2 linked regions of the Homo sapiens genome follow. The protein of the gene in region 2 interacts with the protein of the main gene of each other region in a biochemical or structural test. Each region holds a gene or a part of one and is shown on either strand. Other genes may lie near its edges.

Region 1 (15,184 bases), on a different chromosome or scaffold from region 2:
TGCATAGAAGTTTTGATTTTGATGAAATCTAGTTTGTCTATTTATTTTCTCACTCTTTTGGAATCATATCTGAGAAATGGTATTGTTTTACTCCTGTTTTCTTATAAGAGTTTTATAGTTTAAAGCTTTTACATTTAGTTCTTTGATCCATTTTGAGTTAATTTTTGTGTGCGCTGTAAGGTAGGGATCCAGCTTCATTTTCTTTTATGTGGATATGTAATTGTTCCAGCACCATTTGTTTAAAAAAACTGTGGTCTTGGCATTGTTGTTGAAAATCAGTTGGCCATAGGTGTATGGGTTATTTCTAGAGTCTCAATTCTATTCCATTGTTATCTGTATATCCTTGTGCCTGCACTATAATGTTTTGGTTACTGTAGCTTTGTAGTAAGTTTTGAAATTAGGAAGTGTGAGTCCAGCACATAGTAGAAACTTGATATATACGTATTATTGTTTTGGTCAACTCATTCATTGAATGACCAATTTATTCAACAAATAGTTTAGTCTCCTCAGTGCCAGGCCCTTTGCTGGGTTCTGTGGATGTGAATAGAAATTAAAATAAGGTGGAGTCATCCAACAGTTACAACTGGGTGCCATACGAATTTTACTATAAATATGTACTGGACACTACACTGACTCAGCTGTAGGAACAGAGTAGGCTGGGAAGCACCTTTGAGATGAGGCCGTCTGGATGTAAGAGTCTGTTTCTGGCAGCAGAGACCTGGAGTGTGGGAGGCCTGCTTGCTCTGTTAGGGTTTGAACTGTATCCTGACGATCATGGGAGGCATTGGAGGATTTTTAGGCAGGAAAATGATGTGAAGGGATTTGCATTTAAAAGAGATTATTTGGGACTGGGCACAGTGGCTCACGCCTGTAATTCCAGCACTTTGGGAGGCCTAGACAGGCGGGTCACCTGAGGTGGGAAGCTTGAGAGCAGCCTGCCAAAATGGTGAAATCCCATCTCTACTAAAAATACAAAAATTAGCCAGGTGTGGTGGTGCACCTGTAATCCCAGCTACTCAGGAGGCTGAGGCAGAAGAATTGCTTGAACCTGGGAGGGGAGGTTGCTGTGAGCTGAGATCGCACCACTGCACTCCAGCCTGGGTGACAGAGTGAGACTCCATCTCAAAACAAAATAAATAAATAAATAAGAGAATAAAATAGATAATTTGGGCAACAGGTTGATGTTAATTCCCCACCTTTGTTCTTCTCCTTCAGTACTGTGTTGGCTGGTCTGAATCTTTTGGCTTTTCATATAAATTTCTGAAACTGTTGCTATCTGTTCTCTGCCTGTTTTATTTTTGTTGTTGTTGTTTGGATTTTTTGTTTTTTTGAGATAGAGTCTTGCTCTGTTGCCCAGGCTGGAGTGCAGTGGTATGATCTCAGCTCATTGCAACCTCCCCCTCTCAGGTTCAAGCGATTCTCTTGCCTCATCCTCCTGAGTAGCTGGGATTGCAGGCATGCGCCACCATGCCCAGCTAATTTTTGTATTTTTAGTAGAGATGGGGTTTCACTATGTTGGTGAGGCTGGTGTCGAACTCCTGACCTCATGATCCACCCGCCTCGGCCTCCCAAAGTGCTGGGATGACAGGCATGAGCCACCGTGTCTGGCCTCTCTGCCTGTTTTTTAAGACTTTTGTCTTTGGAGTTTTGCGGTTTCTCCACTGTGGTTTTCCATATGAATTTTCTTTTATTTCTTCTGCTTAAAATTTGTAGGCCAGTTGGTCATGGTGGCTCACGCCCGTAATCCCAGTACTTTGGGAGGCCGGGTGGGTGGATCGCCTGAGGTCAGGAGTTTGAGACCAGCCTGACCAACATGGAGAAACCCCATATCTACTAAAAATACAAAATTAGCCGGGCGTGATGGTGCATGCCTATAATCTCAGATACTCGGGAGGCTGAGGCAGGCGAATTGCTTGAACCAGGGAGGCGGAGGTTGCGGTGAGCTGAGATTAGGCCATTGCACTCCAGCCTGGGAAACAAGAGCGAAACTCCATCTCAAAAAAAAAAAAATAATAATAATAATTGTAGGCCTTCCTTAAGAAAAATAAAATAAAATTCTAGGCTGGGCGCGGTGGCTCCTGCCTGTAATCCCAGTACTTTGGGAAGCTGAGGCGGGTGGATCACCTGAGTTAGGAGTTTGAGACCAGCCTGGCCAACATGGTGAAACCCCGTCTCTACTAAAAATACAAAGATGAGCCATTTGTGGTGGCACCCATCTGTAATCCCAGCTACTCGGGAGGCTGAGGCAGGAGAATTGCTGGAACCCAGGAGGCAGAAGTTGTAGTGAACCGAGATCATGCCACTGCACTCCAGCCTGGGTGACAGAGCGAGATGCCATCTCAAAAAAATAAAATATAAAATAAAATTCTAAGCCCTGCAACCAACTGAATGGAGCCCTCCCCTTGGTCAAGGGAACCCCAGAGAAACCTTGGAAGCTTGAGTTCCTGGCCGTAGCAGGAGAGGAGGTCAGACGCGCCTCACTGTACCCCTCCCTCCCCAGCCACCATTAGGCTTCTTCACTAAGGGCTAAACAGAAACCAGCCCTTTTCAAAGACTCTACACTGCTAATGTGGATTACTGGTTTATCTTCCCAGATACAGATTAAAGACAAGATGAGATTAATGGTTCCTTCACCCTTCCCTGAGAGGTCTGCTTAGTTCTCTTCCTCTGTTTCCTTCTATCTTAGGTAAAATGTACATTTACTGGGCACTTACTGAAGTCTCACAAGTACGTAACCACTCACCTCACAGCCACCCTCCCTCTTTGAAGGACCACATGTAATTACTAAACCTCCTGAGAACCTCTTGGGACAGAAACAAGCACAGATGTGCCGTGACTCATGTTTTTCCTGTGGGCACCCTCAGGCTGGCTCAGTAGCCCTCACTTGCTTGAGATCCTGAATCTGCGGGTTGGCGTCTTTCATGGTTGCTGGATCATACTCTGCCGTTATCTCTTCGGATATGAGTTGCCCCTAGCCCACTATCTGGCCCCTCTCTTTAGGGACCTCTGATTGAACATACATTAGACCTTCTCTCTCCTGCTGTTCCTGATCACTCTTCTGTCCTGTAATTGCTGCTTCTTGTGCTGCATTCTGGGTAATTTCTTCTGGTCTTTTTTCCAGTTTACTAATATTGTATTCTGTTATAAGGTCCTTCCATTGAGTGTTTCTTTCTTTCTTTTTTCCCAAACAGCAACTCAAAACAGACATTGAGTTTTAATTTTGGTTCCTGTACTTTTTATTTCTAGAAGTTCTATTTGGTTATTTTTCAAGTCTGCTACATTATTACATAATTTTTTAATAATTTTATATCTTTAATAGATAGTTTTTTGTTTTGTTTTGTTTTGTTTTGTTTTTTGAGACAGAGTCTCGCTTTGTTGCCCAGGCTGGAGTGCAGTGGTGCAATCTCAGCTCACAGCAACCTCCGCCTCCCAGGTTCAAGTGATTCCCCTGCCTCAGCCTCCCAAGTAGCTGGGATTACAGGCACGCATCACCACGCCTGGCTAATTTTTTGTGTTTTAGTAGAGACAGGGTTTCACCATGTTGGCCAAGACAGTCTCGATCTCCTGACCTCGTGATCTGCCCACCTCGGCCTCCCGAAGTCCTGGGATTACAGAGCTGAGCCACTGCGCCTGGCCTTTGATAGATATTTCAAGTTCATCTTTTTTTTTTGCTTCCTTAATTTTTTTTTTTGCTATACCCCATGCCTCCAAGATAACAGTTTTTTCTTTTTAATTTAAATATAATACAGTTTTACTGTGTATCCAAGAATATCTGAAATCTTTCGTGGGTCTCTTTCTTTTGTCTTTTGTATCTGTTGCTTTTTGCTGGGCTGAGCCTGCTTAAAACAAGCCCCGTTAGCTGTAAAGGTTTACCTTAGAAAGTCAGGTGTCTTCCTCTGTAACTCTCTCCCTTTTCCATCTGCTCCAAGGCATTTATTTATATTAATCTTGACGCAAAGGGAAGTTGTGTCCACTTCACCTTGGCCAGTAAGGAAGCAGTGTTTGGCAGATGTTGTTACTCCTAATAATGCCAGCCAGTGAGTGAAGCTGACCTGAATGCCTCCCAGGGCTGAGGCAATGGCATGATCACCGAAGCTCAAACCAGAGACAGTTTCACCTTTCTGACTGAATAGTGTTCGGTGTAGGCCAAATGCCTGCAGACTACTGTTTGAGGACTGGTGTGGTCTACCAGGTGTTTCCTTAGCGCCTGGATGTCTCTGGCTGCCATCCCAGGGATAGAGCATGGTGTTAGATACGCTAGATGCCTGCCGAAGTAATTATGGGTGAAACATATGATGTCCAAGATTTGCTTTTAAAGGCTCCAATACCTCCTCCCAGATTCCGGAGGGCTGTGAAACAATTAGCTATGAAAACTGGTAATTCCTGAAGCTGGGTACATGGGGGTTCATGATCCCTCTCTCACCTTTTTTGGGGGAGAATGTTTGAGACTTTAATAAGAACTTGTTGCCTTTTCCTTTTACAGGGTGTTGCAGGCATCTTCCTCAGGCCTGTTTTCTCTGTTTTCCAGGCTGACGTGATGGCAGACAGGGTTCCCCGCTGCCCGGTCTGCACCGGCGTTGTGAAGCCCGACATTGTGTTCTTTGGGGAGCCGCTGCCCCAGAGGTTCTTGCTGCATGTGGTTGATTTCCCCATGGCAGATCTGCTGCTCATCCTTGGGACCTCCCTGGAGGTTTGTCAGCAGGCCTGTGCAGGGAGGAGGCTGGAGGGCAGGGGAAGGGAGGGGTACAGGAGTCATCTCATGGGCTGTCGGCAGGCCTGTGCAGGGAGGAGTCTGGAGGGCAGGGGAAGGGAGGGGTACAGGAGTCACCTCATGGGCTGTCGGCAGGCCTGTGCAGGGAGGAGGCTGGAGGGCAGGGGAAGGGAGGGGTACAGGAGTCATCTCATGGGCTGTCGGCAGGCCTGTGCAGGGAGGAGGCTGGAGGGCAGGGGAAGGGAGGGGTACAGGAGTCATCTCATGGGCCCTTCCAGGGCTGGTGCCACTTTGGGAAGGTGAATGGATTCAGCTGGGGTTCCAGGCTGAGGGAGCAGCAGCCTGTGCAGGAGACAGGAAGGTGGGAAGCTGCTGGGCTTTGGAGGTGGTATAGGTGTGGGTGGGGCACCACGTGTGAGGAGAAGGGAGAAGGATGGGGGTGTGGGGGCGAGGTGGAGGGGCAGGGCCTCCCAGGTCAGATCAGGAATACTGATGCTGCAGTGGGAGGAGTGATAAATCCACAGGGACTGGCCCGGGGACGTAGCTGCACCCTTGGGGTCAGGGAGGCCTTTGGGGAGTGGAGAGTGGAGCAAGCAGTGCCAGGAGGCTGGTCCTGGAGAAGGTGGAGCTGTGGTCGCCTGAGGGATGGCGAGGAGGGGGACTGGACTCGCAGTCTGTGATGTTTTGGGGACGTGAGAAGGAGGCGTCTGGCTTGGTCTGTAAGGTCAGGGCACTTGCTGGTGAGGCGTGATTTGGGAGGGAGGATGCCCAGCTCGGTTCTGTGTGTGTCTGAGGTGTCGGGAAACATGCCCTGGATGTGTTCAAGCAGCTGTTCTGCGTCTGCGTCTGCAGCTCAGGAAATTCCTAAAAGCTGTGATGAGAGCAAGAAATGAGACCATGAAGTCAGTGTGTGCGTGACTGGATGTAGGCACCGAGGACAGAAGGGCCAGAAAGACCTGTGCTCAGAGGGGCCCAGGGCAGCCACAGGGGCCCAGAGCATGTGTTTGTTCAGGCATTCATTGTGTGCTGGGCCCTGCTCCAGTGCTTTGGACATACACGGTCAGATGTCAGTGTAAGAAGTTATATAGTTTGTTAGGAGATGATTGATGTTATGAGAAAGATAACAAGTAGGATAGAAAGGCTAGAAGGGTTGGGAACCAGCTGCAGTGTCAAGTCAGGCAGGTGGAGTTGGATCTAAGAGTTTACCGAGGTGAGGAGGGTCTGGCAGGGGACACTGCACAGGTGACAAGCAGCAAGGAGGGTGGGGCGAAGTCAGCATTGATGGCCACGGGGCTGGAGCAGAGAAGAAGGTGGGGCACAAGTGTCATCTCATGGGAGGCTGGCGCCACCTCAGAAGGTGAATGGGTTCAGCTTGGGTTCCAGGCCAGAGTCTGAAGTTGAGAGGACTCCGTTGGGTGCTGGGCTGTGAGCCCACCATGGGGGCAAGACTGGGAGCAGCAGACCCAGCAGGGCCCTTGTAGGTAATCACCGGCTGGCACTGGCTGGGGGCCAGGTAAAGCCAGCAGAGGCTGAGGGGTGCTGGAGTCTGGGTGTGTGTGAACGCAGAGTGGGTACGCTGGCACAGTGCATGGGAGGCCGTGGATTCCCAAGGACCCCAGGGCTGTGGCTGGAGCAGCTGGAAAGACGGAGCCGCCGCTTCCTGAGATGGAGAAGCCTGGTAGGTGGGTTTGGGGGAGCTCAGGAACTCAGCCTTGTTTCCACGGATTTGAGGATGTGCTGCGGACTGGAGGTGTTGAGCAGGTGGACATGAGTCTGGAGTCCAGGAAGGCCCAGAGGCAGGAGCTGGGGTGCTGGAGTGAGCAGACAGGAGAGCCCAGGGTGTGGACAGACATGAGAATGCCATGCTAGGCCTAGGATGGAGGGACAGACACAGGAGGAGCAGTCAGAGGGGCCATGGTGGTCAGCACAGTGTGGGCTGAGACCAGCTGACCGTGCTGGCCACCAGGTGTGGACACTTGGGCCACCAGCCATCTTTATTGTTGAAGTGAAATGAAAATGGCCTTTTTCCTGATTATAAGTGTATCATGTGTGTCTTTGAAAAGATTCGTACATTATATAAAGATATAAAGCAAAGGATCAACTTTTTAATCCCACCAACTGTTAGCATTTTATTCTGTGTCCTCTCAGCTTTCTTTTTTTTGTACAAATGCATACGTACAGATGGTAATTTTAAACTAAAAGTTGGACAGCACTGTACATTCTATTCTGCAGCCTGCTGTTTTCACGTAACAATGTGAGTCCATGGAGATGTGCTGCGTTGTTAATGCCAACAGTTTCCCTTACACGGATATGAGGTCCCAACTGAGAAACCCATGTCTGTAAGGCTGGTGCCATCATGAACTGAATGAGCTGGTGTCACGCACAGACTCTATCTCATGTGCTTTGTGGACGAAATGTTAATGTGTTTGACTGTGGAGTACCACTCCAGATCCCCTTTAGGTGTGACATAACGTGGGATGTAAACCATATGATCTTTTCTAAAATCTCAAAAATTCTGAAACATATTCAGCCACAAGAGCTTTAACATAGATTTTGTGGATTTAATACAAAATTTATGTAAGCAATTTCTTACTGATGGACAATGATAATAAATAGTATATAATTTTTACATTAAAAGTAATGCTGGGCCAGGCACCGTGGCTCACACCTGTTATCCCAGCACTCTGGGAGGCCAAGGCAGGAAGATTGCCTGAAGCTAGGCATTTGAGACCAGCCTGGGCAGTATAGTCAGACCTCGTCTCTACAAAAAATAAAAAGATAGCCAGGCATGGTCTGTGTAGTTGCAGCTATTTGAGAGGCTGAGGAAGGAGGATTGCTTGAGCCCAGGAATTTGAGGTTATAGTGAACTATGATCATGCCACTGCATTCCAGCCTGGGTAACAGAATGAGATCCCGTGCTGTAGTGAATATCCCTGTGTATCATCCTTATCTACTCATGCAAGTACTCCTGAAGGGTAAATGCTGTAGTGAATATCCCTGTGTATCATCCTTATCTACCCATGCAAGTACTCTGGAAGGGTAAATGCTGATAAATACTGAGAACTTGCCTTCCGGTGAATATCCCTGTGTGTCATCCTTATCTACCCATGCAAGTACTCCTGAAGGGTAAATGCTGTAGTGAATATCCCTGTGTATCATCCTTATCTACCCATGCAAGTACTCTGGAAGGGTAAATGCTGATAAATACTGAGAACTTGCCTTCCGGTGAATATCCCTGTGTGTCATCCTTATCTACCCATGCAAGTACTCCTGAAGGGTAAATGCTGTGGTGAATATCCCTGTGTATCATCCTTATCTACCCATGCAAGAACTCCTGAAGGGTAAATGCTGATAAATATTGAGAACTTGCCTTCCAGAAAGATGTAACAATTACACTGCCACAAACTGTGTTTTTATGTAGCCATTTTATCACATCCTCACCAAAACCAAAATCACACAAATCAAATTGGTTAAAAAATGCATGTGTGTGTGTGGAGGGGGGTGCGGATTTTGCCTTTCTGTAGTAAAGAATGAAGTTCATCTTTTCATGTTTATTGCCAGTTGTGTTTCTTCTCTTTGGATTGTATATTTGTACCTCTTGACCATTTTTCATTGGGTCATTATAAATTAGCAATATAAATTAGTTTTAATTTTAGTATAAATTAAATAATATAATTACATTTTAATGTTAATATAAACTTCTTTCTTTTTTTTTTTTTTTTTTTTGAGACAGAGTCTTGCTCTGTCTCCCAGGCTGGAGGTTCAGTGGCGCGATCTCGGCTCACTGCAACCTCCACCTCCCAGGCTCAAGCCATTCTCCTGCCTCAACCTCCCGAGTAGCTCGGATTATAGGTGCGTGCCACCACGCCCAGCTAAGTTTTGTATTTTTAGTAGAGACGTGGTTTCACTATGTTGGCCAGGCTGGTCTTGAACTCCTGACCTCAGCTGATCTGCCCGCCTCGGCCTCCCAAAGTGCTGGGATTATAGGTGTGAACCACCATGCCCAGCTGTTAATATAAATTTCATTATAAATTAGCATTATAAATTAGTTCATAAATTATATGTTTATAAATGAGTTTATCAATTAGCAATATAAACTATTGTCATATGTTGTAAATATTTTTGCAGTTTATGATGATGAGAGGTTTTTAAAAATTTTAAATTTTCTACATAGTAGTTTTATGTAGATACCGAGATAATAGTATTTACATAGTCAGATCTGTCATTTTCCTTTGCCTTATCTGACTTCAGTTTTTACGCCTAGAACGTTCTTCCCTATCCTTACTTGTAAATCCTTAGTTTTCTTCAAGAACTGTTTTGTTTACATTGAAACCTTTAATCCATTTGAATTTTTTTCAGTGGGAGGTAGGAATGGAGTATTTTCCTCCCAGATAATGAGCCAGTTTTAATGCCATTTATTAATGTATCCATTTTTTTACCTTGTTCCTCTTAAAAGAAGCTTTGAGAGCTGTATGAAGAAGCCTGATGGCACCGAGCTAGGCCTCTCTAGAGGCTGGGTGGGGAAGACCATGGAGAGACGTAACAGTAACTCCTGCTCGGGGGCACCAGCTCGTCTGGGTGCCCGATGCTGGTGGTGGCTGTCAGAGCAAGCAGGGCTAGCCAGAGGAGATGGACGAGTCTGTGCTGTTGTCCCTCTGCGTCATGCTGGGAGACAGCGAGGTGGGGAGGACAGGGAGAACAGAACGTGCTCACAAAGAGGAGGCAGGAAGGTTGGATCCCTGATGAGCCTTGGAACGGAGGTGGGGAAAAGCAAGGATGTGTGGAAACAGCAAGAAGTGGGAGAGAGAGAGAGAGGCGGAGGGGAGAAAACCGTCACGGAGGCCAAGCGGCAGGAGCTCAGCTGAAGAAATGAGATTGGTGGTGGGTTTTCCCTATATCGCAGGCTCTGACTGCCAATCTGCTGCTCCTCCAAGGCCTCGGTGGCTGTGGCATGAAACATCCTGAGGAGCTTGTAAAGTGGACACTGTGCCCCTCACGTTTGGCCCATTTTTCAGGTGGAGCCTTTTGCCAGCTTGACCGAGGCCGTGCGGAGCTCAGTTCCCCGACTGCTCATCAACCGGGACTTGGTGGGGCCCTTGGCTTGGCATCCTCGCAGCAGGGACGTGGCCCAGCTGGGGGACGTGGTTCACGGCGTGGAAAGCCTAGTGGAGCTTCTGGGCTGGACAGAAGAGATGCGGGACCTTGTGCAGCGGGAAACTGGGAAGGTACAGACTGCTGAGGAGGACCATCCAAGGGGCTGCCCTTCTCACTGCTCTAGGGTATGGTCCACCTGATATGGAGCCCCGTTGGTTAACACAGTAACAGTAATAGCTGATGATGCTGTGAATCCTGCACCAGGCACTACCTGGACCTGACTGGGTGTTACTTTCAATACCTCCATTTAGAGATGAGGAAACAGATGCTAACAGGCCAAGCAGGGACACGGTCCAGACACTCAGGGCTGATGAGTCTGTATTCTTAACAGACTATAGGCGTTACCTTCACTCCCTAAAATAAAGCAGCCAACAGTGTCCCTCTAAGGCCTGGTATGTGATTCTAAGATGATACGGGTTAAAGAACTTTGAGAAGCTAAAGTTCTCTGCATCTATGTGGGATGAAGGCTACATGAGTGATGCTTTTCGGAAGTAATTGGTATGAGAGCCATTGATCAATTATAATCCGCTGAGGAAAGCCAAAGAGCCTTGATGCTTTCTAAGAGATTTCAAACCGCCTATAAACAAGTGAAGTTACAGAAAATGCAGTTTCCCATAAGAATCATGTAGCATGTGTAGCCTTGATATTAAGGGTTTTCAATGGGAGGTGGTAGCATTAAGCATTTAAAGTCCAGTGTCATGATTACAGGCAGGTGTAACACTGTCCAAAGGGGATTTCACCAGTGTATTAGTCTGTTCTCTGGCTGCTCATAAAGGCATACCTGAGACTGGGTAATTTATAAAGGAAAGAGGTTTAATGGACTCACAGTTCCATATGGCTGTGGGGGCCTCACAATCATAGTGGAAGGCAAAGCAGGAGCAAAGTACTGTCTTACAAGGTGGCAGGCAAGAGGACGTGTGCGGGGGAACTGCCCTTTATAAAACTATCAGATCTTGTGAGACTTATTCACTATCAGAAGAAGAGTGTGGGAAAGACCCGCCCCCATGATTCAGTTACTTCCACTTGGCCCCACCCTTGACACATGGGGATGATTACAATTCAAGGTGAGATTTGGGTGGGGACACAGCCAAACCATATCAACTACAATATATCACAGTTGATGCTCCTCTTGCCTTCCAAGGCAGATGTCTTAGGAAATCCTGATCCTTTTTCCTTGTCCACAGCTGTGGCTGCCTCATGGCTCAGGGCCATGGGGTCAGCACTCTCCTCACCTCCACCAGTCCAAGACCTCCAACCTCTGGTTGCAGGCTGATTTTTTACCAATCATGGTCACTTCATTATGGAGGCAGGGAACCCAGCTAACAATGAGGCTTAAACGCTGAGAGGCGAGTGCCTCCTGGCCAGCTCACAAGGCAGCGGAGATCTTAGATCAGCCCAGCAGGCTTTTTTGAGGGATCCTTTTCCTGCTCCAACTTCATATTTTCTTTTTTTTGTAATGGAGTTTCACTCTTGTTGCCCAAGCTGGAGTGCAATGGCACGATTTTGGCTCACTGCAGCCCTGCCTCCTGGGTTCAAGTGATTCTCCTGCCTCAGCCTCCTGAGCAGCTGGGATTACAGGCATGTGCCACCATGCCTGGCTAATTTCTGTACTTTTATTAGAGATGGGATTTCATCATGTTAGTCAGGCTGGTCTCAAACTCCTGACCTCGGGTGATCCACCTGCCTCAGCCTCCCAAAGTGCTGGGATTATAGGCATGAGCCAGCAGGCCCGGCCCAACTTCCTGTTTTCATAGAAAAGCAGATTGTAACTCTGGTAGCTCCTGTGGAGTTTTGGAAGTGGCTTAATAGGATTTGAACTGTATAATCTAGTTTCAGAGAAATGTATGTAAAATGGGTTATGATTTCATTTTCTGTTTTTTACAGCATTACTATCCAAGGGGTTACTTTTCCAAATAGTGAATGCTTTTAAGCACATGAGCATCAGTACATATTGATTTGGGTACTTTAAGACCCATAGAATGAGGCTCTCCATTTAGCCACCCTGTTCTGCCCAGGCCTGCTGGGATCCTCTTAGCCCAGCACAGCAGCAGCAGTATTTGCAGAAAGCAGCTTGTTTTGTGAAATATTTTGCATGTCTGCAGCTAGAGCTGTTTGAACAGAGATCTGCTGGCCTGCCTGGGTGTGTAAACAGATAGCTGATACCCTCTGTCTTCTGTATTCCAGCTTGATGGACCAGACAAATAGGATGATGGCTGCCCCCACACAATAAATGGTAACATAGGAGACATCCACATCCCAATTCTGACAAGACCTCATGCCTGAAGACAGCTTGGGCAGGTGAAACCAGAATATGTGAACTGAGTGGACACCCGAGGCTGCCACTGGAATGTCTTCTCAGGCCATGAGCTGCAGTGACTGGTAGGGCTGTGTTTACAGTCAGGGCCACCCCGTCACATATACAAAGGAGCTGCCTGCCTGTTTGCTGTGTTGAACTCTTCACTCTGCTGAAGCTCCTAATGGAAAAAGCTTTCTTCTGACTGTGACCCTCTTGAACTGAATCAGACCAACTGGAATCCCAGACCGAGTCTGCTTTCTGTGCCTAGTTGAACGGCAAGCTCGGCATCTGTTGGTTACAAGATCCAGACTTGGGCCGAGCGGTCCCCAGCCCTCTTCATGTTCCGAAGTGTAGTCTTGAGGCCCTGGTGCCGCACTTCTAGCATGTTGGTCTCCTTTAGTGGGGCTATTTTTAATGAGAGAAAATCTGTTCTTTCCAGCATGAAATACATTTAGTCTCCTCAAAGGGACTGCAGGTGTTGACATGAGTTGGAAAGGGAACCCTGGGATACGTGGCGTCCCCTCTATTGGAACAGTCTGAGGACTGAAGGCATTTGTCCCTGGATTTATTGGAGACGGCCCAGCTCCTCCCTCTGAAGGTGGTCACATTCTGTTGACTCTCCATACTCAGCCTCTCCTCCAGAAACAGATCTGTTCCAGAACATTCCAGCACTTTCTATCTGGCCTCCTTGTCCCCACACTACGCCCCCCCACCCTCGCCAGGGCTTCCTCTAGTGACACTGTTAGAGCTAATCTCTGAGACAGGGAAGGCATTACTCACTTAAAACCCAGGCTGAGTCCTGGCCACCTGCTGGATTGTGACATAGGAGGTGGAATCCACTGAACTGCTACTTCTGCACAGGCTCCTTCTCCTGGGGCTGTACCCAGGCCCAGCCCTGATGGCTCACCCTGTCAGGCACCAGCTGCTCCCTCCTGGGCTCTCACCCACCTGCACATCCTCCTTCCTAGCATCACATTACCTGCGTGTTTCCCCAGACAAAAGCACTTCCCATTCTTGAACCTTGCCTACCCTGGGCTGAGCTGACGGCAATAGATTTAATGACAGTGACTCCCAGGAAGGGGGTCCTGTGACTTTGCGCCTTAATAAGAACAAAAGGTGGAATTGGTGACCTAGGAAAACTGTTGAATTCTAAAAAGAATGAAGTTAGTTTCTAACCCTAGTTAATGTTCCTTTTTTATTTTTTGAGTCTTGCCCTGTCACTCAGGGTGGAGTGCGGTGTTATGATCTCAGCTCACTGCAACTTCCGCCTCCCGGGTTTAAGCGATTCTCCTGGGTAGCTGGGATTACAGGTGTGTCCCACCACACCTAGCACATGGGCATATTTGTAATAGAGACAAGGTTTTGCTATGTTGGCCAGGCTGGTCTCGAACTCCTGGCTTCAAGTGATCCACCCACCTCGGCCTCCCAAAGTGCTGGGATTACAGGCATGAGCCACTGTGCCTGGCCCCTTTATTTGATAATTTACACATACATTTTTGTCCAAAACTCTTCTTTATTTCAAGATGATGTTTCTGTGGCTATGTGTGGTATGTGGTATAAATCTCAATCTATGGTCACACGAGGGGCATTTTCCTTGTTGTAAGTGTAGTCTAAACCAGTAGGAAGGAGGTTTAATTGCCAAAACCAGCGAGAACTCGGGCACTGTGGATACTACAGTGGGCAGCTGAACGAGGACCAAGGAGAATGTCTAAGAGGCCTCCAGCCCTGCGCTCAGTGAAGACAGGACAGGAACAACAGAGCATACATACCTTGGAAGGGTGTGTTCTGATATACTCGTATGGAAAGTTCTGACAGGTTTTCTCCCTGGGAAGTGCAGCACATACCCCAACACACTGGCTCTGCCAGTGTGCCAATCCCAGATGGTGCTTGCTTTGTGTGCACCCACACCCAAACCCCTGCCCTCCCATATGCTCTTCTGTGTGCCCAGGTAGGCCCTGCCCTCAGGCAGCAGCTTCTGAACACATTCCTCTTGGCGCAGACAAAAGAAAGTACTTCGTCTGTGGAATTCGAGGCTGAGCCTGAGTTCTAGCACAAGAAGACCGTTGCAGTCCAGAGATGAGAAACTGGACCAGAGGCAAATCATGAACAGAACGGGAGTCAAGAGAAGGGGTTTCTAAGATGGAGAAGTGGGGGCGGGTGTGGATCCAGTGGGATGTGGCTTCCCCAGGTTGCAACCCCAAGGAAGTCTCTGGAAGCAGCACCAGTCCTGATGGGGGAGCAGAAGAGCTGCCATCCTCAGTCAGGGTCCGAGTCAGGGTCCGAGGAGAGCTGCTGCTCCATAGTCTCGCACATGGCATCCTGCAGGGACGTAAGATGACCCCGGGGACTCATCCCCATTGGCTGGATGACTCTGTTCCTGTTGGGGAAAGGTGCAGTGGGGCTGGGGAAGGGGCCCAGTTGGCCAGGCAGGGGTCCTACTCACCCGTGGCTGCTACCTTCCTCTCTACCAAGTAGGCTGCTCCCATTTACTGGGGAAGCCTGGTTGGACCTTCTGTTAACTGGGCCCAAACCCTAACTGCTGCCTCCTGGCTTTAAGCAGTTTCCTATTTTAAACATCTAAATTGGCCTTAAGCAGGCTCTTAATTTGGACACTGGGCCATCTCCAATAAATCTGGCGACATTAGTCTCTTTTTTTTTTTTGAGACGAAGTCTCACTCTGTTGCCAGGCTGGAGTGCGGTGGCACAATGTCAGCTCACTGCAAGCTCTGCCTCCTGGGTTCAAGTGATTCCCCTGCCTCAACCTCCCGAGCAGCTGGGACTACAGGCGCCCACCACCACGCCCAGCTAACTTTTTTTTTGTATTTTAGCAGAGATGGGGTTTCACCATGTTGGCCAGGATGGTCTCGATCTCCTGACCTTGTGATCTACCTGCCTCAGTCTCCCAAAGTGCTGGGATTATAGGCGTGAGCTACCACGCCCGGCCTTAGACAGTCTCTTAATTTCTCTGGGCCTCAGTTATCATCTGTAAAAGGGGCACAATACTGATCTCAATATACCCATCC
Region 2 (16,204 bases):
ACCTCCCAGGTTCAACCAATTTTCCTGCCTCAGCCTCCCAAGTAGCTGGGATTACAGGTGCCAGCCACCATGACTGCCTAATTTGTGTATTTTTAGTGAGAGACAGGGTTTCACTACGTTGGCCAGGCTGGTCTCAAACTCCTGACCTCGAGTGATCCACCCGCCTCGGCTTCCCAAAGTGCTGGGATTACAGGCGTGAGCCACCATGCCCACCTTCCTTTGGTTATTGAGATGGACAAAGAGTTACCCAGTAAGTTAAGAGCAGCTAGTTTTTAATGAATCTTAGCCCAGAATACAAAGCAGGGTGTAGCAGTTGCCTTAATGGTGATATAATTGTAAACAATAGCTTTTTCTTCCCCTATAAACTCGAGTTATAGGAAGCGTTTCAGAGAGAGGATAACACATTTGAATCTATTTTTTAAAAATCATCCTGAAAGCTAGCAGTATTGTTGTCGTTTAAAAGGTTCCTCATATACTCTTACCCTCAGCCAACCCACCATGTTTATCAATTCAAATTCTAGAACTTTCTTGACCCAAGAGATTTTGTAGGAAAAATTTCTCTTTTCAGATATTCAGCACGCAAGGATCATTTTTCTTGGTTTTGTTGCTGATCTTGCTGAACTTTCCATCAATGGCTGAGGGAGGAAGCTTGCATGATTCTTATGAGTTCTTCTGAGGCACTTTGACTGTGACCTGTAAGGGGGACAGAGAAGCCGTTAGATCTTCCTGCTTCCCTGTGATCTGTAGGTCCCCTCAGCTAGGAGCTGACTAAGTGTGAGCAGAAAGGGCTTTTCTTTTTTTCTCCCCAGACTGGAGTACAGGGGTGCAATTACAGCTCACTACTGCCTTGACCTCCTGGCTCAAGCGATCCTCCCACCTCAGCCTCCCAAGTAGCTGGGACTACAGGCATGCACCATAACACCCAGCTAACTTTTTGTATTTTTATTAGAGATGGGGTGTCACTATGTTGCCCAGGCTTGTCTTGAACTCCTGGGCTCAAGCGTTCCGCCTGTCTGGGCCTCCCAAAGTGCTAAGATTACAGGCGTGAGCCATGGCACGTGGCCTGTAACTATGATTTTGATGAAGAGTTATAGGCCAATGATGTCAGAATTTCTATTTCAAATCTGGGTCTTGCCCCTGGAGCTCCAAGCCCATCTCCCTAGATGTGTTCTCCACATCACCTCTTGGGTTTGGACAGGTACCCCAAACACAACCCTAAAGAGAACCACAGTACTTCATTCAGTGTTCCCTATCACAGGACTGGCGTCACCACTCAACCCCTCCTTGGAAACCTGGGTGCCATCTTTGATTCCTAGTTTTGCTTTTCCTCTCTATATCCAGAGTCGCCAATCCTACTCCTGGCTTCCTGTCACATATACCCTCTTTTCTCCACCTGCACTGCACCACTCCAATCCAAACCACCATCTTTCTCCTTGGAGCAGTCTCCTGACAGCTCCCTCATCCCTCCTCATACTGGATGGTCCATTCTCCCTAGGGCAAGCAGAGTGAGGTTTCTTAAATTTTTTTTTTTGAGACGGAGTCTTACTCTGTTGCCCAGGCTGGAGTGCAGTGGCGCAATCTCGGCTCACTGCAACCTCTGCCTCCCAGGTTCAAGCAATTCTCCTGTCTCAGCCTCCCGAGTAGGTGGGACTACAGGCACCTGCAACCAAGCCTTGCTAATTTTTGTGTTTTTAGTAGAGAAGGGATTTCACCTTGTTGGTCAGGCTGGTCTCGAACTCCTGACCTCAGGTGATTCACCTGCCTCAGTGTCCCAAAGTGCTGGGATTACAGGCGTGAGCCACCGCGCCTGGCCGCTTTCTTAAATTTTTAAACAACTTTCTTGAGATATGATTTATGCACAATCAAGTGTAATTGCTTTTAGAATATTTTAAGTTGTGCAATCATCACCATACTCCAGTTTTAGAACATCTGCATCATCTCCAAAAGCAATCTTGCACCCATGAGCAGCCACTACCCATTCCCCATGCCCTAGATGACCAGTAATAAGTTTCTGTCTCTATAGATTAAGCAGAGCAATCTTTTAAAAATACAAATTGAGTGGGCCAGGCACAGTGGTTCACACCTGTAATCCCAGAACTTTGGGAGGCCGAGGCAGGCAGATTACTTGAGGCCAGGAGTTCGAGATCAGCCTGGCCAACAGGGTGAAACCTCATCTCTACAAATACAAAAAATTAGCCAGGTGTGGTGGCAGGCGCCTGTAATCCCAGCTAGTCAAGTGGCTGAGGCATGAGAATCGCTTGAGCCCGGGAGGCGGAGGTTGCAGTGAGCCAAGATCACAGCACTGCACTCCAGCCTGAGCAACAGAGCAAGACTCTGGCTCAGAAAAAAAAAAAAAAAAATTGAGCCACCTAATTCTTCTACTTAAAATGCTCCCATAGCTGAGATCAAACTCCATTATCAAAGACATCAAACCCCACATCATGGCCAACAAGGGCCTGTGCATTCTGGCCTTGCTCTCTCCCCACTAACCACTACATCTTCCACCACCAGCAACCTTCCTGCAGTTCCTGGAAGAGCCATATTTCTCGCCATCACAGCTTTTCCAGAAGCTATGCTCTTTGTTTAGTACGTTCTTCTCTTCCTCCCCTCACCATCTCTACTTCCACTCATCCTTCAGGTATATCAGCTTAGATACCACCCTGTCACGTGGCCATCCTGGACATCGCCTCCTTAACACTAGTCATGTGCCAAGATTTAAGACTCACCAACTGAAGTTGGACCTTTTATCCGATGTCATAACTCAAAGCCCAGCACAGGCTGTCCACCCACATGGCCACCTCCTGCTGTTGTGGACTCTGCTCGGGCAGTGGATGAAGTGTACCCACTGGGAAGTGGGTGGGGTATACAGTAAACAAGACTGGCTGTGAGCTGATCTTTGTCATAGCTTTATGGTGGGGATACAGAGGCTCATTCTACTGTTTTTTTTTTTCCGTTTTGTTTTGTTTTGTTTTTGAGACAGAGTCTCGCTCTGTCTCCCACGCTGGAGTGCAGTGGCACCATCTCGGCTCACTGCAAGCTCCGCCTCCCGAGTTCACACCATTCTCCTGCCTCAGCCTCCCAAGTAGCTGGGATTACAGGCACTCGCCACCACGCCTGGCTAATTTTTTGTATTTTTAGTAGAGATGGGGTTTCACCGTAGCCAGGATGGTCTGGATCTTCTGACCTTGTGATTCGCCCACCTCGGCCTCCCAAAGTGCTGGGATTACAGGCGTGAGCCACCATGCCCGGTCTGTTTGTTTGTTTTTTGAGACAGAGTCTTGCTCTGTTGCCCAGGCTGGAGTACAGTGGCGCGATCTCAGCTCACTGCAACCTCCACCTCCCGGGTTCAGGCAACTCTTGTCTCAGCCTCCCAAGCAGCTGGGACCACAGACACATGCCACCAGCCTGGCCAATTTTTGCATTTTTAGTAGAGATGGGGTTTCACCATGTTGACCAGGCTGGTCTCGAACTCCTGACCTCAAGTGATCTGCCCATCTCGGCCTCCCAAAATGCTGGGATTACAGGCATGAGCCACCACTCCTGGCCTCATTCTACCATTATACCTATTCTTTGCATAGATTGGAAAGTTTCCACACTAAACAAGTAAACACGTTTAGTTGATTCCAGTGAGCTATTCAGGAACACAGGTTGTGTCCTCGGCCTCTCCAGTCTCAGGCTTGGCACTGTGGCCCTGAATGAGTCCCGTTTGCCTTTTCTCACCTGCTCCACAGCTGGCAGGCTTGCCCTGAGCCTCCTCTTTTCCAATCCTGGAAAGGCTAGCTCAACCCATTTGCCTCTTCCTTAAACATCACTTGTGTTTATGTTTTCTGGTTAAACTATAATTAGTATTCACAGTAAATCATTTTCACTTCAGTGTATATTTCCCTGTTTGTTTGTTTTTTCTTTTTTTTTTTTTCCTGAGACGGAGTCTCGCTCTGTCGCCCAGGCTGGAGTGCAGTGGTGCGATCTTGGCTCACTGCAAGCTCCACCCACTGGGTTCACGCCATTCTTCCGCCTCAGCCTCCTGAGTAGCTGGGACTACAGGCACCTGCCACCACACCTAGCTAATTTTGTTTTTGTATTTTTAGTAGAGACGAGGTTTCACCATGTTAGCCAGGATGGTCTCGATCTCCTGACCTCGTGGTCTGCCCACCTCAACCTCCAAAAGTGCTAGGATTACAGGTGTGAGCCACTGCGCCCGGCCTGTTTTTTTTTTTTTTGAGTCTCACTCTGTCGCCAGGCTGGAGTGCAGTGGTGCAATCTTGGCTCACTGCAACCTCCACCTCCCGGGTTCAAGCAATTCTCCTGCCTCAGCCTCCCAAGTAGCTGGGACTACAGGCATGTGCCGCCACGCCCAGCTAATTTTTGTATTTTTAGTAGAGACAGGGTTTCACTATCTTGGCCAGGATGGTCTCGATCTCTTGACCTTGTGATCCACCCACCTCAGCCTCCAGAAGTGCTGGGATTATACGCGTGAGCCACCGCGCCCGGCCATTTTGTTTTTAATAAGATGGTATCTTGCTACATTGCCAAATTAATCGCTTATGAAATTGGCGAACATGACTCTTCAATTTGGCCTGTCCAAGTTTTTCGACTTACAAAACTGAGAGCCAGGCTGGGTGTGGTAGCTCATGCCTATAATCCCAGCACTTTGGGACCAAGGCAGGAGAATCACTTGAGCCCAGGAGATTGAGACCAGCCTGGGTAACATAGTGAGACCCCATCTCTACAAGAAATACAAAAATTAGTCAGGAATGGTGATGTGCACCTGTAGTCCCAGCTACTCGGGAGACTGAGATGCGAGGATCACTTCAGCCCAGGAGGTGGAGGCTGCAGTGAGCTGTGATGGCACCAGTACACTCCAGCCTGGTGATTCCAATCCTGGAAAGGCCTGCTCAACCCATTTTCCAGGCTAGCTTCAAACTTGTGGCTCAAGCGATCCTCCCACCTTGGCCTCCCGAGTAGCTGGGACTACAGGCATGCAACACCACGCTCCAGTTTTTCCTTTCTTTTTTTATATTTATAAGTAAATGTATCTGAGTATCTATCTATGTACATAAATTCCAAAAATTGGGCTTATATTGATGATATATTAGTTTGTATACTGCTTTTACTTTAAAGGCTAAGCATTTTTCATATCAAATATTCTACAAAAACATTTGTAACAGATACCTGTTACTCCTTGATTGGGGTGTTCCATAATTTATTGGGCATTAAGTTTACATCTGATTTTCCCCTCTTAGAGATAAAGCAGTGATGAATATTTATGGAAGGAACGCTTTCTTTGTATTTCTGATGGGTCCTTCAGGCTATATTCCAGTCATTGAAGTTGCAAATCAAAGGAGATGCATATGGTTATGGGCCTTGATATCTCATGCCTAATAGCTTATGTTTGTATTATTTATTTTTAAATATTTTTATTACTGTGGGAATTGCTCCATTCCAACCTAATAGCTAATTCTTTTTTCTTTTCTTTTTTTTTTTTTTTTGAGACGGAGTCTCGCTCTGTTGCCCAGGCTGGAGTGCAATGGCACAATCTCGACTCACTGCAACCTCCGCCTCCCGTGTTCAAGCGATTCTCCTGCCTCAGCCTCCTGAGTAGCTGGGATTACAGGCGCACGCCACCACACCTGGCTAATTTTTGTATTTTAGTAGAGACAAGGTTTCACCATGTTGGTCAGGCTGGTCTCAAACTCCTGACCTCATTCGTGATCCACCCACCTTGGCCTCCCAAAGTGCTGGGATTACAGGTGTGAGCCACCGTGCCCGGTGAAAAGCCACCGCGCCTGGTGAAAATCTGAAAAGATTCTTACTAGAAGCTTTTCCTCTCCGCTCCGCCCCCTGAAGTCTCTCCCTCTTCTCAGGCCTACAGGCCTTGGCGTATAACGAAGCCCAGCAAATGACCGCATAGGCCTGATGGGGGCACGTCCCTCAGTATTTCTCATGGGACAGAGCAGAGGCTGGGTCTTTACCCTCTCTTGTCACTTCTCAGGCTTAAAATGGGAAATTAGTAGGAAACACTGATGGCCTCAAGCATGAGGGAGAGGCCAAAAGGTGGCCCGCCCAGCAGACCCTAAATCCCTGGCAGGCCCTGATCCCCAGCAGGTCCTGAACTTCCAGCAGGCCCTGAGTCCCCGGCAGGTCCTGAACCTCTGGCAGGCCCCGAGCCCCCAACAGACCCCAATCCCCCAGCAGGCTCCGAGCCACCAGCAGACCCTCAAGCCCCAACAGGCCCTGAGCCCCCAGCAGGTCCCACACTCACAGTTTTCACTTCAGTGTATGCCTGCAGCCCGTACTCGCCCAACTCCCGGCCACTCCCCGACATCTTGTAGCCACCAAAGGGTGACTGGGCTCCAAACACATCATAGCAGTTGACCCTGTAATTTGAAACGAGATTGCAGAAATCACTCTTGGGGGTTATGGGTTACACTCCCAGGACCCCCTGTATTGCCCCAAAGTCTTTATTTTATTTTTAACTTAAAAAAAAATTTTTTTTTTTGAGATAGAATCTTTCTCTGTTGCCCAGGCTGGAGTTGCCATGGCATGATCTTGGCTCGTTGCAACCTCCACATCTGGGGTTCAAGAGATTCTCCTGCCTCAGCTTCCTGAGTAGCTGGACTACCAGCACGTGCAACCACGCCTGGCAATAAATTTTTTTTTAAGAGACAGGGTCTGATTATGTTACCCAGGCTGGTCTCCAACTCCTGGTCTTCAGTGATCCTCCTGCCTCAGCCTCCCAAGTAGTTAAGATAACAAGTATGTGCCACTATGCCTGGCTAATTTTTTTATCTTTTATTTTTTGTAGAGATGGGGTCTCACTATGTTGCCCAGGCTGGTCTCGAACTCCTGGCCTCAAGTAATTCTCCTGCCTCAGGCTCCCAAAGCACTGGGATTACTGGTATGAGCCACTGCACCTGGATGGCTTTCTTTTCTTTTCTTTCATTTTTTTTTTTTGCAATTTAAAAAAATTATTAAATTTTATTTGAATTTGAAATTTACCATTTATTTATTTATTTTTATTTATTATTATTATTTTTTGAGATTATTTTTTGAGATGGAGTTTCACTCTGTTGCCCAGGCTGGAGTGCAGTGGTGAGATCTCAGCTTACTGCAACCTCCGCCTCCCAGGTTCAAGCGAATCTCCAGCCTCCCGAGTAGCTGGGATTACAGGTGCATGCTACCATGCCCAGCTAATTTTTCTATTTTTAGTAGAGACAGGGTTTCACCATGTTGGTCAGGCTGGTCTCAAACTCTTGACTTCGTGATATGCCTGCCTTGGCCTCCCAAAATGCTGGGATTACAGGTGTGAGCCACCACGCTTGGCCTATTTTTAATTTTCTTTTTTTTTTTTTTTTTGAGACAGAGTCTCGCTCCGTCGCCCTGGCTGGAGTGCAGTGGTGCGATCTCGGCTCACCGCAAGCTCCGCCTCCCAGGTTCACGCCATTCTCCTGCCTCAGCCTCCCGAGTAGCTGGGACTACAGGTGCCCGCCACCACACCCGGCTAAATTTTTGTATTTTTAGTAGAAACGGGGTTTCACTGTGTTAGCCAGGATGGTCTTGATCTTCTGACCTCGTGATCCGCCCGCCTTGGCCTCCCAAAGTGCTGGGATTACAGGTGTGAACCACAGCGCCCTGCCCTTTTTCTTTTCTTTTTTTGAGACAGAGTCTCACTCTGTTGCCAAGCTGGAGTGCAGTGGTGCGATCTCGGCTCACTGCAACTTCTGCCTCTAAAGTTCAAGTGATTCTCCTGCCTCAGCCTCCTGAGTAGCTGGGATTACAGGTGCCCACCACTGCGCCCGGCTAATTTTTTTTTTTTTTTTTTTTGAGACAGAGTCTTGCTCTGTCACCCAGGCTGGAGTGCAATGGCACGATCTCAACTCACTGTAACCTCTGCCTCCCGGGTTCAAGCGATTCTCCTGCCTCATCCTCCCAAGTAGCTGGGATTACAGGTGCATGCCACCACACCCGTCTAATTTGTGTATTTTTAGTAGAAACAGGGTTTCACCATGTTGGTCAGGCTGGTCTTGAACTCCTGACATCATGTTCCACCTACTTCGGACTCCCAAAGTGCTGGGATTACAGGTGTGAACCACCACGGCCTTACAGGTGTGAGCCACCAGGCCCAGGCCTAATTTTTGTATTTTTAGTAGAGACGGGGTTTCACCACATTGGCCAAGATGGTCTCCATCTCCTGATCTCGTGATCCGTCTACCTTGGCCTCCCAAAGTGCTGGGATTACAGGGGTGAGCCACTGCACCCAGCCTAAAATTCACCATTTTAAAGTGTACAATCACTGGTTGACAGCATATTCACAGTGTTGTGTGACCATCACCACTGTCTAATTGCAGAACATTTCTATCACACTGAAAGAAGCCCTGTGCCCAGGAGGCAGGCACTCTCCATTCCTCCCTCCCCCAGCCCCTGGCAACCACTAACATACTTTCTATCTCTATGGATTCGCCTATTCTAGATATTTATAATACTGTAAATGGAATCACACAGCATGTGGCCTTTTGTGCCTGGGTTCTTTTTTTTTTTTTTTGGAGTCTCACTCTATCGCTCAGGCTGGAGCGCAGTGGCATGATCTCCACTCACTGCAATCTCCGCCTCCCAGGTTCAAGCGATTCTCCTGCCTCAGCCTCCCGAGTAGCTGGGACTACAGGCACCTGCCACCACAGCCAGCTAAGTTTTGTGTTTTTAGTAGAGATAAGGTTTCACCATGTTGGCCAGGCTGGTCTCAAACTCTTGACCTCAAGTGACCTACCCACCTCGGCTTCCCAAAGTGCTGGGATTACAGGCATGAGCCACCGCACCCAGACAGTCTGGGTTCTTTCACTCAATGTTATGTTCAAGATTAATCCATGCTATTGCATGCATGGCTACTGATATGGCTTGGCTTTGTCCCCACCCAAATCTCATCTTGAATTGTAGCTCCCACAATTCCCACGTGTTGTGGGAGGTAATTGAATCATGGGGCCAGGTCTTTCCCATGCTATTCTTGTGACAGTGAGTAAGTCTCACAAGATCTGATGGTTTTATAAAGGGGAGTTTCCCTGCACAAGTTCTCTTCTCTTGTCTGCCACCACGTGAGACATGCTTTTCACCTTTCACCATGATTGTGAGGCCTCCCCAGCCACGTGGAACTGTGTGAGTCCATTAAACCTCTTTCCTTTATAAATTACCCGGTCTCTGCAATGTCTTTACCAGCAGTGTGAGAACAGACTCATACAGCTACTTCATTCCTTTCTGTGGCTGAGCCACATTTCATTGCATGGACAGATCACATTCTGTATCCATTCATCTACAGACGGACATTTGGGTTGTGTTCACCTTTTGGCTGTTACAAATAATGCTGCTGTGAAGATTCATATACACGTTTTTATGTGGGAGCACGTTTTTCTTTCTCTTGGATAAATACCTAGGAGTGGAATTGCTGGGTCATATGGGGGCTTCATGTTTAACTTTTTGAGGAGCTCCCAAATTATTTTCCACAATGAGTGTGCCATTTTCCATTCCCATCAGCAACATAGGAGGGTTCCGATTTCTCCACATCCTTACCAATACTTTAAAATATATATACATATAGCCCAGCCTGGGCAACATGGCGAGATCTCATCTCTACAAAAAATAAAAATGTTTTTTAATTGTCCAGGTGTGGTGGTACACACCTGTGGTCCCAGCTACTCAGGAGGCAGAGGTGGGAGGATTGCTTGAGCCCAGGAGTTCAAGGCTGCAGTGAGCTATAATCGCACCCCACAGCACTTCAGCCTGGGTAGAATATTTTTTTCTGTCTGAAAAAATAAAACTAAAAATAAATAAATAATAAAAATATAGCCATCCTAGTGGGGGCTAAGTGTGAAGCAGAGGCTAAGCTTTTAGGATCAGTGTCACAATCATGGGTCCCTCTGCTCTGGTCTCCTGCCCTGAGGCAGCTGGGGAGGAGCCCCACCACTCCGCTGCCTGCCAAGTTCAGGTGCAGGGCCTTTGCACCACAGAGAAGCTTGATCCTTCGGAGGTGAGGTAGCAGGACCTCTCAAATCGACATCACACCCTGACCCAGGAGAAACTGAGCCCAGCTCCCCAAATTCCAGGATGGTGACCACCAGATTCCAGTAGGCCCTGGCTTTGAGGAATCTCTGTTGGGTTGTGAGGGGCTGCTGGGAGGCTCTTACCACACAGTGCCCGCCTGGAGGGCCTGGGACAGGTAATTGGCCTTGTCCAAATCCTTTGTGAAGACAGCTGCGGCCAGCCCGTACGTGGAATTGTTGGCTCTCCCAACAACCTCCTCTATGGTCTTGAACTTCAGGATCTGCATCACTGGCCCGAAGATCTGGAGTGAGAGAGCAGCGTAGGAGGGTTCGGCAACACGGAGGCACCTGCCATCGAGCTCTCTCAGAGCAGAACAGATGATTCCAGATTGGGGGATAAGCCCCCAGCCATGCTCTAACAGTTCCAGGGGAAGACAACAGCCATCAAGCTCAGCAGAACACAGAGGGAATGGAGCTAACAGGGGCCAACTTCCTCCTGTGCGCCCCGGGCTTTACATACAGTATCCCATTTCTAAACAATCCTGCCAGGTATGTTATTCACACGTGACACGTAGATTTAGTGTCAAAGAATTTAAGTCAGCTGGGCATTGTGGCTCATGCCTGTAATCCCAGCACTTTGGGAGGCCAAGGTGGGAGAACTGCTTGAGTCTAGGAGTTCGAGTCCAGCCTGGCAAACACAGAGAGACCCTGTCTTTACTCAAAAAAAAAAAAAAAATTTTTGGCCAGGCACGATGGCTCACACCTGTAATCCCAGCATTTTGGGAGGCTGAGGCAGGTGGATCACCTGAGGTCAGGAGTTGGAGACAAGCCTGGCCAACATGGTGAAACCCCATCTCTACTGAAAATAAGAAAAATTAGCTGGGCGTGGTGGTGTGCGCCTGTAATCCCAGCTACTAGTAGGGTCTGAGGCAGGAGAATCGCTTGAACCCGGGAGGCAGAGGTTGCAGTGAGCTGAGATTGCACCACTGCACTCCAGCCTGGCGACAGAGTGAGACTCCATCTCAAAACGAGAAGAGAAAAAATAAGCCGGGCGTGGTGGCTCATGCCTGTAATCCCAGCACTTTGGGAGGCCGAGGCAGGCAGATCACGAAGTCAGGAGTTCGAGACTAGTCTGATCAACATGGTGAAACCCTGTCTTTACTAAAAATACAAAAATTAGCCAGGCGTGGCTAAAACTGGAGACAGAGTCCCGCTCTGTTGCCTAGGCTGGAGTGCAGTGGCGCGATCTCGGCTCACTGAAACCTCTGCCTCCCAGGTTCAAGCGATTCTCCTGCCTCAGCCTCCAGAGTAGCTGGGATTTCAAGCAAGCGCCACCACGCAGGGCTAATTTTTTCTTATTTTTAATACAGACAGGGTTTTGCCATGTTGGCCAGGCTGGTCTCGAACTCATGACCTCAGGTGATCCACCCACTTCGGCCTCCCAAAGTGTTGGGATTACAGGCGTGAGCAACTGCACCCAGCCTGTACTAAAAAATTTTTTTAAAATTAGCCAGGCATGGTGGTGAGCACCTGTAGTCCCAGCTACTCAGAAGGCTGAGGTGGGAGGATCATTTGAGCCCAAGAGTTCAAGGCTATAAGGAGCCATGATTATGCCACTGCACTCCAGCCTGGGCAACAGAGCAAGAATCTGACTGAAAGAAAAAAGGTCATGGGAAGGAGCAGACAATGTCATTCCTAGACTCCTGGCTCTGAGGGCCAGGACACCAAGGCCTGCAGGCCATGCTGAGGAATGCAGACGATCTCCCAGACAGAGGGTACAAGCTGAAGAGGAGGGACAAGATCAGATACATACTATGAATAGCGTGTTATGGGCACTGGTTCTGGGTATAACTTGAGATCTGGCCCCAAGCCAGCAGATGGGTGACAGCATCAGGATGCCAGGCTGAACTGTTTACCTCACCTCCCGCCAAGAATGTTTCCAGAGCACTGGCCCCAAGTGCTCACCTCCTCCTTGGCGATGGTCATGCCATCCTGCACATCTCCAAACACAGTGGGCTGGATGAAGTAACCACGGTCAGCAGCAATGCCCCCACCACACAGCAGCTTCGCCCCCTCTTGCTTCCCCGTGTTGATGTAGCCGAGGATCTTCTTAAACTGAGTTTCATCCACCTGTGGGAGAAGGAACCCAGAGTTATGGAGACATCGGATTCAGACCTCTCCTAGGCTTCAGGCTTAGAATTATGCAGGCAACAAGACAACTGGGAAATGGACCAAGGTCATAAGAAAGCAAGATCAGAAGAGGAAACACACAGGGCCAATAGCAGAAAACACAAAAAAGGCCCAACTTCCTCAGCCTACCGGAGAAAAGGACATCAAATCAATCTTTACTTTTCAACTATAAGATTACCAAAAAGTTTAGGAAGAAAATACACTGATAGCAAGAGACCGTTACATATACTGTTAGAAGGATGACAGACTGGTACAGCCTTTAGAGCAAGTGGTTTATTAATATTGCTCAAAAATTATATACTCAGATCCTTTGGCCCAGCTATTTAACTTCTAGGAATTTATTCTACATATGCACAAAGAGAAATGAACAAGGATATTCACTAGGGAGTATTTTTTTTTTTTTGTATTTTTGTTTTTGAGATGGGGTCTCACTCTGTCACCCAGGCTGGAGTGCAGTGGTGCGATCTCCACTCACTGTAACCTCTGCCTCTCATGCTCAAATGATCCTCCCACCTCAGCCTCCCGAGTAGCTGGGACTATAGGCATGCACCCCTACGCTGGGCTAATTTTTGTATTTTTAGTAGAGACAGGGTTTTGCCTTGTAGCCCAGGCTGGGGGAGCATTTTGTAAAGGCAAAAGATGGAAACAATTCTAAGTATAAATCAGTAGAGGGGTTGGTTAAAATTATTACGGTGCATCCAGTATATTGTCATCACTAATAGATCTGTGAACTAACTGACACAGAAAGATGGCCCAAGATACTCTGTAAAAAGAAGGAAAGCTTGGGCCAGGGGCAGTGGCTCACGCCTGTAATCTCGGCACTTTGGGAGGACGAGGCAGGCAGATCATGAGGTCAGGAGTTCAAGACTAGCCTGGCCAACATAGTGAAACCCCGTCTCTACTAAAAATACAAAAATTAGCTGGGCATGGTGGCACATGCTGAGGCAGGAGAATCGCTTGAACCAGGGAGGTGGAGATTGCAGTAAGCCAAGATCGCGCTATTGCACTCCAGCTCTGGCAACAGAGACTTCGTCTCAAAAAAAAAAAAAAAAAGAAGTAAAGCTTGTAGAACAATATGCACTTATATACTCCTTTATAGGGTAGGGGAGAAGGGCGACAGGGTCTCACTCTATTGCCCAGTCTGAAGAGCAGTGGCACAATCACGGCTCACTGCAACTTCAATCTCCCTGAGCTCAGGTATCTTCTCATCTCAGTCTCCCGAGTAGCTGGACCACAGGTGTGTGCCACCACACCTGGGTAATTTTTATATTTTTAGTAGGGATGGGGTTTTGCTATGTTGCCCAGGCTAGTATCTAACTCCTGGGCTCAAGTAATTGACTCACCTTGGCCTCCCTCCCAAGTGTTAGGACTACAGGGGTTAGCCACCACACCCAGCCTATTTTTTAAAAAATAAACATACAACAGCATAACTGTGTGTGCATGAGTGGTTACCAATGGAGAATAAAAGAAATGCAACAAAGTCTTATTTTTTACATTAAATACCTTTTTTTAAAAAGAGTCAGGGCCTCACTCTGCCACTCAGGCAGCAGTGCAGTGGTGTGATCACTGCTCACTGCAGCCTTGACCTCCTGGGCTCCCACCTCAGCCTCCCAAGTAGCTGAGAGTATAGGCACGCATCACTACATCTGGCTAATTTTTTTTTGCTTTTTTTTAAAAAAAAAATTATTTATTTTTTGAGGTGGAGTCTCACTCTGTCACCCAGGCTGGAGTGCGGTGGCACGATTTTGGCTCACCACAACCTGCGCCTCCCGGGTTCAAGTGATTCTCCTGCCTCAGCCTCCCGAGTAGCTGGGATTATAGGCGCCCACCACCACGCCCAAATAGTTTTTGTATTTTTAGTAGAGATGAGGTTTCACCGTGTTGGCCAGGCTGGTCATGATTTGCATTTTTTTTTTTTTAGTAGAGATGAGGTCTTGCTGTAGTGCCCAGGCTGATCTCGAAATCCTGGGCTCAAGAGATTCTCCTGCCTCAGCCTCCCAAAGTGTTGGGGTTACAGATGTGAGCTGCCACACATAGCCTAAACACTTTCTCATTAAATTTATTAATGCAAGTTTATATTATCTTAATAATTAGCCACAAAGAGAAATGAGACAAAAAGAAATGTTAGGACGGGTGCAGTGGCTCAAGCCTGTAATCTCAGCACTTTGGGAAGCTGAGGTGGGCGGATCACAAGGTCAGGAGTTCAAGACCAGCCTGGCCAACATGGTGAAACCCTGTCTCTACTAAAGATACAAAAAATTAGCTGGGCATGGTGGTGGGCGCCTGTAATCTCAGCTACTCGGGAGACTGAGGCAGGAGAATCATTCAAACCTGGGAGACGGAGGTTGCAGTGAGCCGAGATCGTGCCACTGTACTCCAGCCTGGAGACAGAGCAAGACTCTGTCTCAAAAAAAAAAAAAAGAAAAGAAATGTTAGGACAGGTGCGGTGGCTCACACCTGTAATCTCAGCACTTTGGGAGGCTGAGGCAGGTGGATCACCTGAGGTCAGGAGTTCAAGACCAGCCTGACCATCTTGGTGAAACCCTGTCTCTACTAAAAATACAAAAATTAGCAGGGCGTGGTGGCGTGCACTTGTAGTCCCACCTACTCAGGAGGCTGAGACAGGAGAATTGTTTGAACCTAGGAGGTGGAGGTTGCAGTGAGCTGAGATGATGCCACTGCACTCCAGCCTGGGTGACAGAGCGAGACGGTCTCAAAAGAAAGAAAGAAATGTTAGTGCCCCTAGCTGCACTATTCACAGTAACCAAAAGGTGGAAACAATCAAGTCTGTCAACAGATTAATAGAAAAATCAAAATGTGGTCTATTCACACAATGGAATATTACTTGGCCTTTTATGTTCTGATACATTCTTATTACAACATGGATGAACCTTTAAAACATGGCTACTTGGAAGAAGCCAGACACAAAGAACCATGTAGGATTCCATTTGCATAAAATGTCCAAAATAGATAAATCTATAGGCAGAACATAGATTGGTGGTTGCCTGGGCCTGGTAGGGGGAGGAATGGGGAGTGACTGCTAATGGGTACAGGATATTTAGGGGAGGCAATGACAATATTATAGAATTAGTGGTGATGGTTGCACAAAGTTGTGAATATACTAAAAATCACTGAATCGTACACTAAAATGGTGCATTTTATGCTACGTGAATTATATCTCAATAAAGCTATTAAAGATAGAGATGTTGGAGGCCAGGCACAGTGGCTCACACCTGCAATCCCAGGACTTTGGGAGGCTGAGGTGGGAGGATTGCTTGAGCCCAGCAATTCAAGACCAGCCTGGGTAACATAGCAAGACCTCATCTCTATAAAAAATATGAATATTAGCCAGGTGTGGTGACGTGTGCCTGTAGTCCCACCTACTTGGGAGGCTGAAGCAGGAGGATCACTTGAGGCCAGGAGGTTAAGCCTGCAGTGAGCCATGATCACACCACTGCATTCCAGCCTGGGCAACAGAACAAGACCCTGTCTCTAAAAAAAATCAAAGAGGGGGATGTTGGGCACATAACCCTGTCCCATGGCAAGGCCAGTCCATCCTCAGACATGGCTGTGGCTCCCCACTGAGGAATCAGAAATGCAAACTGCTAAAAGAAAGAAGCCAGTCTGAGAAGGCTACCTACTGTATGATTCGTATAAGACAATCTGGAAAAGGCAAAACTATAGAGACAATAAAAAGATCGGCCAGGCACAATGGCTCACGCCTGTAATCCCAGCACTTTGGAAGGCTGAGGTGGGTGGATCACGAGGTCAGGAGATCGAGACCATCCTGGCCAACGTGGTGAAACCCTGTCTCTACTAAAAATACAAAAATTAGCTGGGCATGGTGGCATGCACCTGTAAGTCCCAGCTACTCAGGAGGCTGGGGCAGGAGAATCACTTGAACCCAGGAGGTACAGGTTGCAGTGAGCCGAGATCACGCCACTGCACTCCAGCCTGGTGACGGAGCGAGACTCTGTCTCAAAAAA

What was found.
Region 1: the proteins of ALDH2 (region 2) and SIRT3 form a complex in vitro, tested with the Homo sapiens proteins (one study listed by BioGRID).

What each region holds. Positions count from the first base shown.
Region 1 is NC_000011.10:213,584-228,767, reverse strand, and holds the end of SIRT3 (NAD-dependent protein deacetylase sirtuin-3, mitochondrial), read left to right. Parts: intron 1-2,686; exon of another isoform or gene 2,687-3,095; intron 3,096-4,528; coding exon 4,529-4,690; intron 4,691-9,167; exon of another isoform or gene 9,168-9,726; coding exon 9,727-9,936; coding exon of another isoform or gene 9,937-9,990; intron 9,991-12,049; coding exon 12,050-12,070; 3' UTR 12,071-13,738; downstream 13,739-15,184. Other genes in the region: RIC8A (chaperone Ric-8A), read right to left, coding at 14,418-14,538.
Region 2 is NC_000012.12:111,794,032-111,810,235, reverse strand, and holds part of ALDH2 (aldehyde dehydrogenase, mitochondrial isoform 1 precursor), read right to left. Parts: intron 12,159-16,204; coding exon 11,994-12,158; intron 10,403-11,993; exon of another isoform or gene 10,331-10,402; coding exon 10,173-10,330; intron 6,378-10,172; coding exon 6,263-6,377; intron 694-6,262; coding exon 661-693; 3' UTR 1-660. UniProt on the Homo sapiens protein: Required for clearance of cellular formaldehyde, a cytotoxic and carcinogenic metabolite that induces DNA damage.